Linked DNA regions of Homo sapiens: region 1 is linked to region 2. The links come from fine-mapping of genetic effects on gene expression. A gene starts in region 2. The other region holds a variant in brackets. All regions are shown on one strand. Distances are between the middles of the regions.

Evidence for each region.
Region 1: its variant is fine-mapped to the expression of CHMP4A in monocytes (TOPMed, PIP 0.98).

What each region holds. Positions count from the first base shown.
Region 1 is chr14:24,180,631-24,188,950 of GRCh38, reverse strand. It overlaps IPO4 (importin 4), which reads left to right and starts at 135. Exons shown (of 30, transcript NM_024658.4): 1 at 135-232; 2 at 313-399; 3 at 528-607; 4 at 694-735; 5 at 1,155-1,284; 6 at 1,372-1,551; 7 at 1,801-1,866; 8 at 1,972-2,073; 9 at 2,160-2,243; 10 at 2,500-2,664; 11 at 2,769-2,822; 12 at 2,981-3,090; 13 at 3,384-3,492; 14 at 3,639-3,768; 15 more. The coding sequence starts at 164. It also overlaps a transcript of REC8 not described here. RefSeq lists silencers at 564-683, 929-1,139. The variant A/G (reference allele first, on the strand shown) is at 3,668.
Region 2 is chr14:24,208,949-24,217,268 of GRCh38, reverse strand. CHMP4A (charged multivesicular body protein 4A) reads left to right here and starts at 3,781. Exons shown (of 6, transcript NM_014169.5): 1 at 3,781-3,860; 2 at 5,440-5,589; 3 at 5,677-5,854; 4 at 6,501-6,615; 5 at 6,786-6,921; 6 at 7,334-7,654. The coding sequence starts at 3,830. The coding sequence ends at 7,392. It overlaps NEDD8-MDP1 (NEDD8-MDP1 readthrough), which reads left to right. Exons shown (of 7, transcript NM_001199823.3): 4 at 1,607-1,717; 5 at 2,670-2,777; 6 at 2,874-2,959; 7 at 3,118-3,326. The coding sequence ends at 3,245. MDP1 (magnesium dependent phosphatase 1) reads left to right here and starts at 1,203. Exons shown (of 6, transcript NM_138476.4): 1 at 1,203-1,350; 2 at 1,472-1,532; 3 at 1,607-1,717; 4 at 2,670-2,777; 5 at 2,874-2,959; 6 at 3,118-3,326. The coding sequence starts at 1,314. The coding sequence ends at 3,245. NEDD8 (NEDD8 ubiquitin like modifier) reads left to right here. Exons shown (of 4, transcript NM_006156.3): 4 at 46-412. The coding sequence ends at 142. RefSeq lists enhancers at 1,157-1,326, 1,739-2,477, 3,632-3,926, 3,563-4,062, 3,490-4,298 and 1 more.

The sequences.
Region 1 (8,320 bases), 28 kb after region 2:
AAGTGGAGGAGCCGGACCTCTTTGTGGGAAGCGAATTGAATCACCTTGGCAACCCGCGGGGCGTGCAGCAACGCCCTTTCCTCCGGAAGTGGGTGTCAGAACCTCCACGTGCTGTCCCTCCCCCTCCCCTTTTCGGCCCAGTAGCGGCGGCTCAGTTGCTGCCATGGAGTCAGCCGGGCTAGAGCAGCTCCTACGGGAGCTGCTGCTACCGGACACCGAGCGCATCCGTCGGGTACGGAGCAGGCGTAACCGGGCCAGGGCGAGCGGGAGGTTGCGGGAAAGGCCCAACTCTCACCCCTAGCTTCCCCCCAGGCCACGGAACAGCTCCAGATCGTTCTTCGGGCCCCCGCCGCTTTGCCGGCTCTCTGCGACCTGCTAGCCTCGGCGGCCGACCCCCAGGTGAGACCCCTGACTCTCCCCTCCGAGCTTCCCACTGTACGCCACCGGTCAAGCCCCAGTATTCGCCCACTGCGGTCCGCTCAGCACCTTCCTGCCCGGACCCCCACGTGCTTGCTTCCTCGTCCTAGATCCGCCAGTTTGCGGCCGTGCTGACCCGCAGACGACTGAACACCCGCTGGCGACGGCTGGCGGCGGAGCAACGGGAGAGGTGGGCTGGGCCTGGGGTGGGGCGGGGCCAGGCGGAGACTTTTCTTGGGCAGGCTGGGTACCAAACACCTGCCACCTGTGTTCCAGCCTCAAGTCCCTGATCCTGACGGCCCTGCAGAGAGAAACAGAGTAAGTACCTACCCACTTCTCTCGGGATCTTGACGACTTTGTCTAGGTTTCTGCCTTCCTTTTCGGCTCCAGGCTGGGACTTGTGGGGCAGGGACTTCAGTTCTAGACGCAAGGTGGAGTGAGGATTTTAAGGCTGTTTTGAAGACTAAAGTTCTTGAGGAAGGGTGATGATGATCTGCCAAACCCAAGTCAGAAGAATAAGACTGAAATTCAGGCTAAGTTAGACTGAACTTACCAGATTACATGCCCACAGTGCTGTTGGGCTCCCTCTGAGCTGCTGTCTCATGTGTCCCAACTTGGCAAAGACCCTGTGCCCACACCTCCTGAAAGTTTCTGTCCTGGCTGCCCCATTGAGCCTGGCCACTGTGTGCAGAGGAAGGTATTGAAGGGTGATTGGAGGAGATCTCTCCTGTTTGCAGGCACTGTGTGAGCCTCAGCCTGGCCCAGCTCTCAGCCACCATTTTTCGAAAGGAAGGCTTGGAGGCCTGGCCACAGCTTTTGCAGCTGCTTCAGCACAGTACCCACAGCCCCCACAGCCCAGAGAGAGAGGTACCATCACATGGTTGGCAGGAGGGAGGGCCTGAGAGGCTGGATAGACCTTGTAAGCTTGCTCTCCCATCCTCTATTCTTGGACAGATGGGGCTTTTGCTGCTAAGTGTGGTGGTGACCTCCCGGCCCGAGGCCTTCCAACCCCACCACCGGGAGCTTCTTCGGCTTCTGAATGAGACTCTTGGTGAGGTGGGCTCTCCTGGGCTGCTCTTCTACTCCCTGCGCACTCTGACCACCATGGCTCCCTACCTCAGCACTGAAGATGTGGTGAGATGTGGGCCCTCGTTATCTTTGACTCCCTTTCCTCATGCCTTCATGTCCTCACCCGTAAAAGTTACAAAGCTGCTTTGGATTCTTTACCTGCCTGTGGCCCTTCCTGACAATTGAGAGGGGATGCTGTAGGTGGGCCTGGCTGTTATGCCTGGGCTCCTCCTCGCAATTCAGGCTGTGAGGAAGCTGCCAGCTGCTGGGGTGTGAGATTGGGCTGCATCATGCTCTCTGTGATGTGTCCCTCAGCCTCTCGCTCGGATGTTGGTGCCCAAGCTGATCATGGCCATGCAGACTCTGATCCCCATAGATGAGGTGAGGACAGGTGGGCAGGAGCTCTGTTGGAAGGAGAGTGCAGAAGTGTCCAGTTTGGCCCACTGAAGAAGAGCATGGTAACCTTGTGCCTTGTTTGTCTGTCAGGCAAAGGCCTGTGAGGCCCTTGAGGCTTTGGATGAACTGTTGGAGTCAGAGGTGCCGGTCATCACCCCCTACCTCTCTGAAGTCCTCACATTCTGCCTGGAGGTGAGCCTGGAGTGGACATGGCCCCTGCTACATGCTCTGCTGGGACTCTCCTTCCCTGTCGCTGATTTTTATTATTCTGTGGACAGGTAGCTAGAAATGTGGCCCTGGGCAATGCGATACGCATACGTATTCTCTGCTGCCTCACTTTCTTGGTCAAAGTCAAGAGCAAGGTAAGTGAGTGCCCATTGACACACATCACCCCACCCCCATCTCCACCCTTAGTCTCACTCCTGGGGCTTTCGGTCCATCTCAGGGTATCTAAAGTACTGTGGGGGTTCAAGCCTTGGCCTGGCCTCACCCCAGCTCCTGCCTGGGAGGTTGGGAATTTTCTGTCAGACCCCTTATGGCCTGGAAGACTGGAATTTTTAATGTGAGCCCATCCTGGGAGCAGATTCTTAGGGACACTGTTCCACCTTCTCTGTCAAGGCCTTACTGAAGAATCGTCTCCTGCCACCCTTGCTGCACACCCTTTTCCCCATTGTGGCTGCTGAGCCCCCACCAGGCCAGTTGGATCCCGAGGACCAGGATTCAGAAGAGGAAGAGTTGGAGATTGAGCTGATGGGGGAGACTCCCAAGCATTTCGCTGTACAAGTGAGATGTGGGGCAGGACAGAGGGGGAAGGTGTTAGGTGGCTGTGGGACGTTGGGGAGGCAGAGATGGAGTCAAGCAAAGTAAGTCTCCCCATCCCATCTCAGGTTGTGGACATGCTGGCACTACACCTGCCCCCCGAGAAGCTCTGTCCCCAGCTGGTAAGTGTGGCTCTGTCCTTCTGGTGTCCCTACCTCCAAGTGTGCCTAGTCCCCCTGAGGCCAACGACGTTTAGACCCTGGGAGGTGTGAAGGCCTATTACCACAGGAATGGGCAGGCTCTTGCTGGGGTTTCAGAAGCGTGCCACATGCTTCCCTAGATGCCCATGTTGGAAGAGGCTTTGCGGAGCGAGAGCCCATACCAGCGCAAAGCTGGACTCCTGGTGCTGGCCGTGCTGTCTGACGGAGCTGGCGACCACATCAGGCAGAGGTATGTATTCCCCTGTCCCAGGGTGAGGGTTGCCCACAGGGAGGACCATGGCTGTCCTGGTTTACGCTTGTTGTTCAAGCTTATTTATCAACAGCGTTTCCCCCCATTATCAAAAGTGTCCTGGCTTGGAAGATAAATGACATGGCTTACCAGCTATAGGGACCAGGGGCTGCTGCCCACCCTCTGGTGACAGGAAAAGCCTTGGTTTTTCCAGGGAAAATGAAGAGAACAGGTCAGCCTAGGGCTCTCAGGTGTAGCTTCTCAGCCTATGTCCTCTTGTTTGCCCCATCCAGACTGCTGCCCCCACTGCTGCAGATTGTGTGCAAGGGCCTGGAGGACCCCTCGCAAGTTGTACGCAATGCTGCGCTGTTTGCCCTGGGCCAGTTCTCAGAAAACCTACAGGTGAACCAGGCTGAATGTGGGAGCCACCACTTGAATGTCCCCTTCCCCTCATCTTTCATCTCTTCAAGCATCCCTGCTGCCATCAGCACTCTTGTGTGTGCCCGGCAGGTGAACCTGACTCAGGCCCTGCTTGCTCCCTCCCCCAGCCCCATATCAGCAGCTATTCAAGGGAGGT[A/G]ATGCCACTGCTCCTCGCCTACTTGAAGTCGGTGCCTCTTGGACACACACACCACCTAGCCAAGGCCTGCTATGCCCTGGAGAATTTTGTGGAGAACCTAGGTAGTGATGGCAGTGGGGAGCTTGGGGAAGGGGGATGAGGCGGCGGCTTTGGCTGAATGTACAGGATGTGCATCTCCCTGCATTGCTGCCTGTGGTAGGGGAAAGGGTGTGATGGTGCCAAAAAAAGGTTTCCGCCTGGAGGGAGGTGGGCGTGCAGGTAGCAGACCTGGGTTGGTTGGTAGAGGAGCATCCTTTCCCACAGGGCCCAAGGTGCAGCCCTACCTTCCGGAGCTTATGGAATGCATGCTGCAGCTTCTGAGGAACCCCAGCAGTCCCCGGGCCAAGGAGCTGGCTGTGAGCGCCCTGGGAGCCATTGGTGAGGAGAGAGGCAGGAGGCAGGGATGTGGGGTTCACCCAAAGGCCCTGTGGCTGGTGGTCCCTGCCCTCTCCAGCTCTGATTCTGTCCTTCCATCCTGCAGCTACGGCTGCCCAGGCCTCGCTGCTGCCCTACTTCCCTGCCATCATGGAGCACCTGCGGGAATTCCTGTTAACAGGCCGTGAGGACCTTCAGCCTGTGCAGATCCAGAGCCTGGGTGAGTGAGAGGTTCCCAGGTGGGGCTCCCAGTGCCAGCAAAGGGCTGGTGCTCACCTGGTGTTGACAGATTGCCCCCACAGGAGCACGGATGTCTTCCTTCTCATCAAAGGGGTGTGCTTCATGCTGTACCAAGGGGTGGGGCGGGATTTCTGAATCCCTCCCAGCCACCACCTTTGGTCCCGTAGCCCACCTCCACCTCCTGGTGCTAATGGAGCCCTTGCCCCCACAGAGACACTGGGGGTGCTGGCACGAGCAGTGGGGGAGCCCATGAGGCCGCTGGCTGAGGAATGCTGCCAGCTGGGTCTGGGCCTCTGCGACCAGGTAGACGACCCTGACTTGCGGCGCTGCACGTGAGTGACCCCTCACCCTGCCTCTGCCCTTGTCCCCTCCCCTCCTGTCTTCCCACTGGACCCACTGGAATCCCCACCCCAGACTCCAGTCGTCTGGTTTGGACCATAGCCAGGTGTTCCCGGGCTCCCCCATCCTGCCTGGTGGTAGCAGGCAGGACCTTACAGCTTCTTCTGCCTGCTTTGACCAGGTACAGCCTATTTGCAGCCTTATCGGGTCTGATGGGTGAGGGCCTGGCGCCCCACTTGGAACAGATCACCACGCTCATGCTGCTGTCACTGCGTTCCACCGAGGGCATTGTGGTGAGCAAAGGGTGGGTGGGCTGGGCCAGGCCTGCCCTGCAATGGGATTTATCTCCTGGGCCCAGCTGAGCCAAAGTCCTTGCCGTGCCTCCGCTCCAGCCTCAGTATGACGGGAGCAGCTCCTTCCTTCTGTTTGACGATGAGAGTGATGGGGAAGAAGAGGAGGAGCTCATGGATGAGGATGTGGAAGAAGAGGATGACTCAGAGATCTCAGGGTGCGGAGGGGTGCTCTTCTGATCAGGAATCTAGACTTTGGCTTTAGACAAGGGCCTAGTGCTGGATCTGCTCCTCTTGGTGCCTGATCACCACTGCCTCCCCTTCTTACTCTAGGTACAGCGTGGAGAATGCCTTCTTCGATGAGAAGGAAGACACCTGTGCTGCCGTGGGGGAGATCTCTGTGAACACCAGGTGAGCATTCGCCCTTCCCTGGCACTGAAAACCCTGCCTGGGGGCCCCTTACCCACGGCTGTGTCTCTCTCTGTAGTGTGGCCTTCCTTCCATACATGGAAAGTGTCTTTGAAGAAGTATTTAAACTGCTGGAGGTGAGCGGGCCGGCGGGTGGAGTGGGTGGGGTTCTCAGGCTGGGGGCCCTGTGTTCACGGTGCACATAGCAGACATATCCCGCCCCTCCTCATCCTGCAGTGCCCTCACCTGAATGTGCGGAAGGCAGCCCATGAGGCTCTGGGTCAGTTTTGCTGTGCACTGCACAAGGCCTGTCAAAGCTGCCCCTCGGAACCCAACACTGCTGGTGAGGAGAGGCTGGGCCAGGCTGGGGGTTCTTGGGGAGGGGCAGGGCCTGACTGGTGCTTCAGCCAATAATGTCCCCAGCTTTGCAGGCTGCCCTGGCCCGAGTCGTGCCATCCTACATGCAGGCAGTGAACAGGGAGCGGGAACGCCAGGTGGTGATGGCCGTGCTGGAGGCCCTGACAGGGGTGCTCCGCAGCTGTGGGACCCTCACACTGAAGCCCCCTGGGCGCCTCGCTGAGCTCTGTGGCGTGCTCAAGGCTGTGCTGCAGAGGAAGGTGAGCAGGGCAGGTGGGCTTCGGGAAGGAGAGGTGCTGGGCCTCGGTTGGGGACTGGCTACAAGTCCACCCCCTACCCCCATGAAAAGAGAAGGGGCGTGAAAGCTCCGCTAAGTTGAGCTACTTCTTGTAGACAGCCTGTCAGGATACTGACGAGGAGGAGGAAGAGGAAGATGATGATCAGGTGAGAGCCAGGGATAAAAACGGGGACCAGGCGGTCCAGGCAGTCTCCACAGGGACAGGGGTGGACAGTGTATTTGGGCTTGGCCTGGGGCAGCCAGGGCCACTAAAAGAGACTGGTAATGGCCAGAGGGATACAACCCTGATCCCACTAAGCCAGTGGGAGTTCAGGGAAGGAGAGCAGTGTGGACTGGGGTGTGCTTGGAGTGATAGGTAGGAGCAGAAGAGCCAGGGGAAGAAGCTGGGTCATGGAAACACCCAGCTTGAGAGGGGCCAGCCCTATCAACCAAGGGCAGCCCCAGGGACCCCTGCAGCTGGTGGCAGAGCGTGGGAGGGAGGTGTACAGTCACTGAGCTGGCCCTGGTGCTCCAGCCCCTGACCTGGCTCCACAGGCTGAATACGACGCCATGTTGCTGGAGCACGCTGGAGAGGCCATCCCTGCCCTGGCAGCCGCGGCTGGGGGAGACTCCTTTGCCCCATTCTTTGCCGGTTTCCTGCCATTATTGGTGTGCAAGACAGTGAGTGTCCATCTTCTGGCTTCAAGCCCTAGTCCCCTCGTGCACCCGGTGCCCACCACAGCCTTTATCCTTGGCCCAGGCTGATCTGTACTCCTTCCTGTTCTCCCCCATCAGAAACAGGGCTGCACAGTGGCAGAGAAGTCCTTTGCAGTGGGGACCTTGGCAGAGACTATTCAGGGCCTGGGTGCTGCCTCAGCCCAGTTTGTGTCTCGGCTGCTCCCTGTGCTGTTGAGCACCGCCCAAGAGGCAGACCCCGAGGTGCGAAGCAATGCCATCTTCGGGATGGGCGTGCTGGCAGAGCATGGGGGCCACCCTGCCCAGGAGTATCCTTGGCTCGCAGGACGGGAGGGACTGGAGGTTGGGGGAGTGTCCCCAGGGCTTGCAGGTGGGCAAGGTCTACCTGAGCGTGTGGCCATTCCTTGACTGTGGACCAGACACTTCCCCAAGCTGCTGGGGCTCCTTTTTCCCCTCCTGGCGCGGGAGCGACATGATCGTGTCCGTGACAACATCTGTGGGGCACTTGCCCGCCTGTTGATGGCCAGTCCCACCAGGAAACCAGAGCCCCAGGTGAGGGAGGGAGACATCAGGCAGGGCTTGGAAGCTGAGGAGGGAGGGTGGTGGAGGGCAGGGCAGGTTGGCCTGAGACATTTGTGTGCCCAGGTGCTGGCTGCCCTACTGCATGCCCTGCCACTGAAGGAGGACTTGGAGGAGTGGGTCACCATTGGGCGCCTCTTCAGCTTCCTGTACCAGAGCAGCCCTGACCAGGTAACCTTGCTGCTGGCAGCCCTCAGAGGGGAACGTGCCGCTCCACTCAGTGATAGGCACTGTCTGCTGATGAGGCTCGGGAGCTCCAGGCTGTCAGTTGCACCTGATGCAAGGTGACAGTTTCAGCTGTTCTTTTGGTACTCCCTGCACCATTTCTTATTTGTCTGCAAGGATTGGCAGCCAGTCCTGTGATGGGACAGGAGGGACTTCCTTTCTCCACGTAGCATTTTTCCTGAGGAAGCTCCATTTCTACCCTTTGGTCTGAGCCAGAAGTTGCAGTTTTCCTAGGCTGGTTTCCTAAACCGGGGCCCTTTCAAACTGTGCTCTGTGGAGCCCAGGGTACCTCTGGGCCACCACACCATACATTTCAATCAGATCAGCTCTGCTCTCTGAAGAGATTTTGCCTGTACCAAGTAGCTAGGTTTGGAGTCATGTCAGAGTGTTTGTGTCACCCTTGTCTTATACCTTTAGAGACTGTTGTGTAGGTGAAGCTCCTGAGTGTCTGGGTTTCTTTAGGTCTTGAGGCTATGACTTTAATCATCTTGTCCCACATCCCCCATTCCCTCCAAAAAAAATCATTAGCACCAAGTTTCATTGGTTCTTCTCATGTTCATAGTTGTCTTGGATGCCTGTGAATCAGTACCAGGTGCAACCACCCCCCTGATAAGAGATTCTGCCACTCCTTGGTCCTGACCACCCTCCTAGACCTGGGGTCTGGGGCTGCTGCCCTGAGTCAGCCACTCTTTCCTCACAGGTTATAGATGTGGCTCCCGAGCTTCTGCGTATCTGCAGCCTCATTCTGGCTGACAACAAGATCCCACCAGGTGAGGGTAGGAGTCATAGGCAGGGGCTTGCGGGAGGCTGGGAGTGGCAGGGCTCAGA
Region 2 (8,320 bases):
CCTAAGTCTTCTTTTTCTTTTTTTTCTGGCTTCCTTTTCCTGCAGGAATGATGAGAAGACAGCAGCTGATTACAAGATTTTAGGTGGTTCAGTCCTTCACCTGGTGTTGGCTCTGAGAGGAGGAGGTGGTCTTAGGCAGTGATGGACCCTCCATTTTACCTCTTTACCCTGTCGCTCATAATGAGGCATCATATATCCTCTCACTCTCTGGGACACCATAGCCACTGCCCCCTCCCCTGGATGCCCAGTAATGTATGTCTACTGGTGGGAGACTGTGAGGATCCCAGGATTCAGTATTCCTGGCCCAGAGGGCCCTTGCTGGCTACTGGGTGTTAGTTTGCAGTCCTGTGTGCTTCCCTCTCTTATGACTGTGTCCCTGGTTGTCAATAAAATATTTCCTGGCCTCCTGGAATCTTTCTTCTGTTGCACAAGTTGACTGAAATAAAAATGGACCTAATGCTCACTCAGTTATAGCAGGCTGAAGGAATCGGACAGTGGAAGGAATGGTGCTCTTACGGGGATTATCAGACTCTAGGAAAACCTACTTAGTGGTGTGTTGGAACCAGTTCCTAGTGGCTAATGAGAGCCAATTATTGGCACCTTTTTCCAACTCTATTAAGTGACTTCATGTTGGTAGCTTGAAATTGGCCATGGTAGGATTATTTACAGAAACTAGCAAACACTACAGATCAGTTCCTCCCCACAAACTGGTTGTTATACATCTACCAGTGTAGTGCTGACATGGATGGTGAAACCTTCGGAGAGTGAATTCTCTCTTGACTGTGGCTGTACTGGACATTTAGGCCTGGTTGGAGAACGCCTTCAAGGGTTTGGCTGACACTGTACTCTATGGCTGGAATATTACTGAGGACTTTGGGTTCTACACTGTCAGGAGGTTGATAATGCAGAAAGATTGAGTGACAAGCTGTGATGTATCACTTGGGTCTCAAGAAGAGGCAGGTGCTAGAAGAAAAGGCTTTCCTTCTTCCCTGGCTTCTTAGTATAATAGAATCGGGCAAGGCTGGGTGGAGTGGAGAAGTAGGGAGGATGCCCGTGGCCAATGCCTTAGAAAGACTTGACTGCTGTGGTTGCATGTGTGGTCGTGTTGGTACCTCGCTGCAATCCTCTTCCCCGCCCAGCATCAGATGGCACTCTTGCGCCATCTCCAGGCTGATGACGCCCCGAGTGGCGACGCTCTAGTCGCCATTTGTCTATGGCAGGCAGGGTGGCTGCCTTAGCTGCCGGAGGTTCCGCACTCTCTAAGGCCCCGGGTGAAGCCCCACCTCTGCTGCGCGCAGCCTGCGGTGCGGGTCATGGCGCGGCTACCGAAGCTGGCAGTCTTTGATTTGGGTGAGGGACGGGAAGGGGAGAATTTCGTAAGGTGCTCTCCTTTTCCACATCCCTAACAGCAGCTCCCGAATCCCTGCATCTCCCGCCCCAGGCTGAACCTTCCCTCTCCTTCCTCTCGCAGATTACACTCTCTGGCCTTTCTGGGTCGACACGCACGTAGACCCTCCGTTCCATAAGAGCAGGTGAGGTAGGGACAGGGAAGACTGGGGGCGAGATAGGACCCAGCCAGGGCTGAGCGCACTCTTGCCCTCTCCAGTGATGGAACTGTACGAGATAGGCGGGGCCAAGACGTCCGACTGTACCCAGAGGTGCCTGAGGTCCTAAAACGATTGCAGAGCCTTGGGGTGCCCGGTGCGGCTGCTTCAAGGTAAGAAGAGCGACTGACAACTGACAGTGTAATGCTGAAGGGTGCATGCAAGAGACAGTGAAACCCCTGGTCTACAAAAATAGGGGCGGTGCAAGTTTCCAAGTATTTACATATTTTTTCCCTTGAACGCTCTCCTGTGCCTTTTAACTATTAAAAAGTGGGGCCAGCAGGCGGGCGCGGTGGCTCACGTCTGTAATCCCAGCACTTTGGGAGGCCGAGGCGGGTGGATCACGAGATCGGGAGTTCAAGACCAGCCTGATCAACATGGTGAAACCCCGTCTCTACTAAAAATACAAAAATTAGCAGGGCGTGGTGGCACGCACCTGTAATCCTAGCTACTCGGGAGGCTGAGGCAGGAGAATCGCTTGAACCCGGGAGGCGGAGGTTGCAGTGAGCTGAGATGGAGCCACTGCACTTCAGCCTGGGTGACAGAGTGAGACAATGTCTCAAAAAAAAAAAAAAAAAAAAAAGTGGGGCCAGACACAGTGACTCACACCTGTAATCTTAGCATTTTGGGAGGCCTAGGTGGGAGGATCACTTGAGCCCAGGAATTTGAGACCAGCCTAGGCAATAGAGGGAGACCCTATCTCTACCAAAAAAAAAAAAAAAATTGTAGTGGCGTGCACCTGTAGTCCCAGCTACTTGGGAGGCTGAGGTGGGAGGATCACTTGAGCCCAGGAGGTCGTGACCACAGTGAGCCGTGATTGGGTCGCTGCACTCCAGTCTGGGCAACAGAGCTAGACCCTGTCTCAAAACAAAAGCTAAAACATTGGCCCAGCACCAATTGTGTCAAATAGGAAGGCAATGGAGTTAAACAGAGGCTGAGGATGCCTGTCCATCCCGGAAAAACAGCAAGTTGATTTCCCTGGTTATACTTACTAACTTTGCTTAATAAGTTAACGTAGCCCTGGCCCTTCACTTTGCTAATCCCATCTTTTACACCGTTTTGCAGGACAAGTGAGATAGAAGGGGCCAACCAGCTACTGGAGCTCTTTGACCTCTTCAGGTACTTTGTTCATCGGGAAATCTATCCAGGCAGCAAGATCACACACTTTGAGAGGTATGCGGAGATAAGGGAGGAGCAGGGTGAGAAAGTATCAGAGAGGCCTGGGAAACCAAGATACTAGCTTGGTTACTCCTGCCCTGTCTTGAATAGGTTGCAGCAGAAGACTGGAATTCCTTTCTCCCAGATGATCTTCTTTGATGATGAGAGGCGGAATATTGTAGACGTCAGCAAACTGGGTACTGAGTGATGAGGAACAGCCATTTGGGGTCCCTAGGAGGGATTAGGTAGATACATACAGGTTGGATAGTTTGCCCTATAGGTGGCACTCACAAAGGTCAGAGTAATAATGGAGAACCCTGAAAGCTTAATGAAATGTGACTTCTTATCTTTCTAGGTGTTACCTGCATTCACATCCAGAATGGAATGAATCTTCAAACTCTAAGTCAAGGGTTAGAGACATTTGCGAAGGCCCAAACTGGGCCTTTGAGGTCCAGCCTTGAGGAGAGCCCATTTGAGGCCTAAACTGAAAGGAAATCAAGAAGGCATTTTCAGGTGCATTTGTAATTTATTAAAGTTCATCTGTGTGTGACAGAAGAGATTTTACCCACAGTGTGGGGAGTTTCTATTTTTCTAGCCTGTGAAATGGGGTTGGTTGTCCTGAGGTGCAGAGACCAGAATGTGAGACATTAGACTGCATCAGGTTTGCCATCTAAACTTAGGGCAACCCCAAGTGCTTGAACCTATACCACCCCACTTTCCTGAGCTCTGTAAAGAGCATGAAGTTTTCCCACTGACCCCATACACTGAGGTGCCATCACACTGCACATTTCCTTCCGGAGAACAAGCACGTACTCAGGTGGAGATAGAACTGTCTTTTTACTTAATAGAAAATGATGTGGCAGCTTTAAGAGGAGCGCGTCGGTCTGGGGCTGGTGGCTTGGGTCACGTGACACCGGTGGTCTCGTTTGCGCCTCTTGATGTCGCGGCGGCGCCCTGAGGACGGATTGGGCAAGGCTGGTCCCTGTGTGATGAGACATCACCCTCCCAGGAGCAAGGCGGAAGTCTGGAGGACGCTGAGGGGCGGAGGCGGGAGAGGCGAGCTCGCGATGAGTGGTCTCGGCAGGCTCTTCGGGAAGGGTGAGCCAGGGTGGGACTGGCCAGCCAGGAGGCGCTGGCTGGTGCAGGGGAAGAGGAGACCCCGGCGAGATTCGGCCGGACCGCTGCGCCGGGCAGGGGAAGAGAATCAGGAGACAGGCTGACTGGAAAACCCCGGCGGCCGATGGCGGAGCAAGGCTCATCGCCGGTGCCAAAAGGCACACCATGTCGGGGCGCCTTGTTCCCGTCCGCCGTCCTCCCCCACTCTCAGAGGGAAGAACTCAAGATCTGGGAGGGGACTTGAGTTGAGGGCGTGGCGATCGTGCTGACTCCCACTGTTCAGGCTTGAAGACGAGTTTCCTGCTGTCTTCAGCCATTTTCAAAACCTTGTTCTATAATACTTTGTGCTGGGCAAGAGGGATCTAAGGTGAAGAAGAAAGACTGCCTTCTTAGCCCGGCGCGGGGGCTCACGCCTGTACTCGCAACACTTTGGGAGGCCGACGTGGGTGGATCATGAGGTCAGGAGTTTGAGATCAGCCTGGCCAATATGGTGAAACCCCGTCTCTACTAAAAATATAAAAATTGGCCGGGCGCGGTGGCTCACGCCTGTAATCCCAGCACTTTGGGAGGCCGAGGTGGGTGGATCACCTGAGGTCAAGAGTTCGAGACCAGCCTGGACAACATGGTGAAACCTTGTCTCTACTAAAAATACAAAAAAAAAAAAAAAATTAGCTGGTTGTGGTGGCACGCGCCTGTAGTCCCAGCTACTGGGGGAGGCTGAGACAGGTGAATCGCTTGAACCCAGGAGGCGGAGGTTGTAGTGAGCCAAGATTGCACCAATGCACTCCAGCCTTGGTGACAGAGGGAGACTCCATTCTCAAAAAAAAAAAAAAAAATTAGGTGGGCATGATGGTGTGTGCCTGTAGTCCCAGCTACTCAGGGAGGCTGAGGCAGGAGAATCACTTGAACCCGGGAGACGGAGGTTGCAATGAGCTGAGATCATGCCACTGCACTCTGGCCTGGGCAACAGAGCGAGACTCTGTCTCAAAAAAAGAAGTCCTGGCGCGGTGGCTCATGCCTGTAATCAAAACACTTTGGGAGGCCGAGGCGGGCAGATCACCTGAGGTTGGGAGTTCGACACCAGCCTGACCAACATGGAGAAAGCCTGTCTGTACTAAAAACACAAAAAATTAGCCAGGCATGGTGGCACATGCCTGTGATCCCAGCTATTTGGGAGGCTGAGGCAGGAGAATTGCTTGAACCCAGGAGGCGGAGGTTGAGGTGAGCTGAGATCACGCCATTGCGTTCCAGCCTGGGCAACAAGACTGAAACTCTGCCTAAAGAAAAAAAAAGAAAGGCAGCTAGGAATAGTAAAAAGAATATTGGTTTTAGAACTCATACTGCCACATCTTGATTCCTGCACAATCTCTTATTAGTTGTGATTTTTAACATCTTTGTGGTTGTTTTCACATTTTTAAAGTGAAGAGATAGCACGTTCATTGTAGAGATTTGGGGATTAGCAATAACACAGTCAGGTCTCTAGCACATACTATGTATTCAATGATTGGTGGCTAATATTTTTCCTTCACAAAATTTGGGCCTACTCCACTGGACTCCTCAGGGAAGAAGGAGAAAGGGCCAACCCCTGAAGAAGCAATACAGAAACTGAAGGAGACAGAGAAGATACTGATCAAGAAACAGGAATTTTTGGAGCAGAAGATTCAACAGGAGCTACAAACAGCCAAGAAGTATGGGACCAAGAATAAGAGAGGTAATGAGGGAAACAAGCCTATGGGGAGGGCCCAGATGGGAAGCAGGTGCTTCTGACTCTTGATGTTCAGGGTATGGGCTGGGTCAGCTGCCCTACAGGCTTTGCGGAGGAAGAAAAGATTCGAACAGCAGCTGGCACAAACTGACGGGACATTATCCACCCTGGAGTTTCAGCGTGAGGCCATTGAGAATGCCACTACCAATGCAGAAGTCCTTCGTACCATGGAGCTTGCTGCCCAAAGCATGAAGAAGGCCTACCAGGACATGTGGGTACGGGGGGAGGGGTGGAGGGGACCCAGGCACTGGGAAGAGTGGCTTGCTATCACACTTTAAACTTTAAAGCCTCTCAGAATGTGAATTTGCAGTATAGATACTTGTGATGGCTAGACATCCATCTGCCCCTTGCTTCCTATAAAATTCTTTCGCTGCCTGGGGCATTCTAGGGAGGAAAGATGCCTTCTCTAATTCTTTTTTTGTTTTGTTTTGTTTTGTTTTTTGAGATGGAGTCTTGCTCTGTCGCCCAGGCTGGAGTGCAGTGGCACAATCTCGGCTCACTGCAACCTCCGCCTCCTGGGTTCAAGTGATTCTCCTGCCTCAGCCTCCTGAGTAGCTGGGATTACAGGTGTGCACTACTGTGCCCAGCTCATTTTTGTATTTTTAGTAGAGATGGAGTTTTGCCATTTTGGCCAGGCTGGTCTTGAACTCCTGACCTCAGGTGATCCACCTGCCTTGGCCTCCCAAAGTGCTGGGATCACAACTTGCATCTTTGCAATTTTCCAGGGATCTCTTCTGATTGATAGTTATGGGCTTATCAGTGTGACCCTGCAAGGCAGGAGGGGTTTCATTCATGTGAGATGAGAAAGTCAAGGGGGCATTGTTGCGTGATTTCTTAGCTATCTATCTCATTCTCAGGGACATTGACAAGGTAGATGAACTGATGACTGACATCACGGAACAACAGGAGGTGGCCCAGCAGATCTCAGATGCCATTTCTCGGCCTATGGGCTTTGGAGATGATGTGGATGAGGTGATTGGGGGTGAAGGGTCAGGGAATATTGCAGAAAGTATGGGACTGGCCAGAAGGAACACCCAAGAGAGGCTCTTGGGACAAGTTTGGGAGGGAACTTCAAAAGTGGTATGTTTTTGGAGGTAGAAGTTTTTTTCTTCATCTAAAGTGGTCTTGTCTTCCCTATCCAGGATGAACTGCTGGAGGAGCTAGAGGAGCTGGAGCAGGAGGAATTGGCCCAGGAGTTGTTAAATGTGGGCGACAAGGAAGAAGAACCCTCAGTCAAATTGCCTAGTGTACCTTCTACTCATCTGCCGGCAGGGCCAGGTATGCAGGGTTGTTCTGTTGTCTTGAGGACTTAAGAGGGTGGGAGAGATATGGGGAAAGATTATTCCTCATCCATCCTGCCTCAAAGGAGCCACACAGAAAGGGCTGCTGCTGCAGTTGTGCAGGTTGTTGACTGCATATAGGCACCCACCTAGCCTGTGCTTCACTCAACAAGCCGTGTACCCTGGTTTAGGGCTGCAAATGGCAGGAGCAAGAGGCACCATTTTTCTAATTTGCACAAAGGTGCTGTGGGATTGAACAGCAGCCTAGCAAGCAGAAGGACCATACCTTTAGGTTTTTTGCTGGGGAGACAGAATTCAGCAGGCTCTGAATGTCATAGCAGGGGATGGTTGGAGTTGCTGAGACCTTACTGCTTCTCCTTTCTTTTCTCTGGGTATCTTTGTCCTCAAAGCTCCCAAAGTGGATGAAGATGAAGAAGCACTAAAGCAGTTGGCTGAGTGGGTATCCTGATAAATCTGGGCTTGTCTTCCTAATGCTACCTTTGTTGGTCCTTTCTTCCTTAAGTGCCAAGTGCTGAGCTAAAGGAGGATAACTTTTTGGGGAAGTCATGCTGAGGGTGGTAGTGTGACCCTGCCTGAAAAAAGGGTCTCTTACCCTCCCAGCCCTGGCTCAACTCTGAAGAAGGATCTTGCTACAGAAGGAGCCCTTGGGCTCCCTTCTCTTTGATAGCAGTTATAATGCCCTTGTTCCCAATAAAACTGGGCAGATGGAATCCTAGTGTCTATACTGCCTTGTCTACCCCTGAAGCTGTTCCCCTGGCCCTTGGAGCCTTATTTCAAGCAATGAATAATTAGAGCAAAGAAGGGGGGTTGGAACATAGAACAAATGGGCATTCCTAGTATCTCAACCTATGTTCCAGGCAAACATTATTTCATCTTTCAAGCCGGTTTGTCCTAGAGTTGCCTAGTTGCTGAGGCTGAAGAAACTGCCATCTACCACTTAGAACCACGTGGAGGCATCTCTGAGTCTTCCCTCATTGCTTTCCCCTGGTCGTGCCTCTGCCAAGACAGCCCCAAATTTCTTTTACAAAGCCCATTTTCAAGGACAAGGAGGGAGAATACCATGGAAGGAGCAAGTAGCTTTGCTACTTGGAATGGAAGGAGCAAGTAGCTTTGCTACTTGGAATGGAAGGAGCAAGTAGCTTTGCTACTTGGAATGGAAGGAGCAAGTAGCTTTGCTACTTGGAATGGAAGGAGCAAGTAGCTTTGCTACTTGGAATGGAAGGAGCAAGTAGCTTTGCTACTTGGAATGGAAGGAGCAAGTAGCTTTCCTTTATCCAGAACCCATAGTTAGTAGCTTTCACTACTAGAAGGCTTGGTTTGAATTCTGTGTCTGGGAACAATTGTGTGAGAAGCCTTGTCTCCCTGCTATTGTGTCA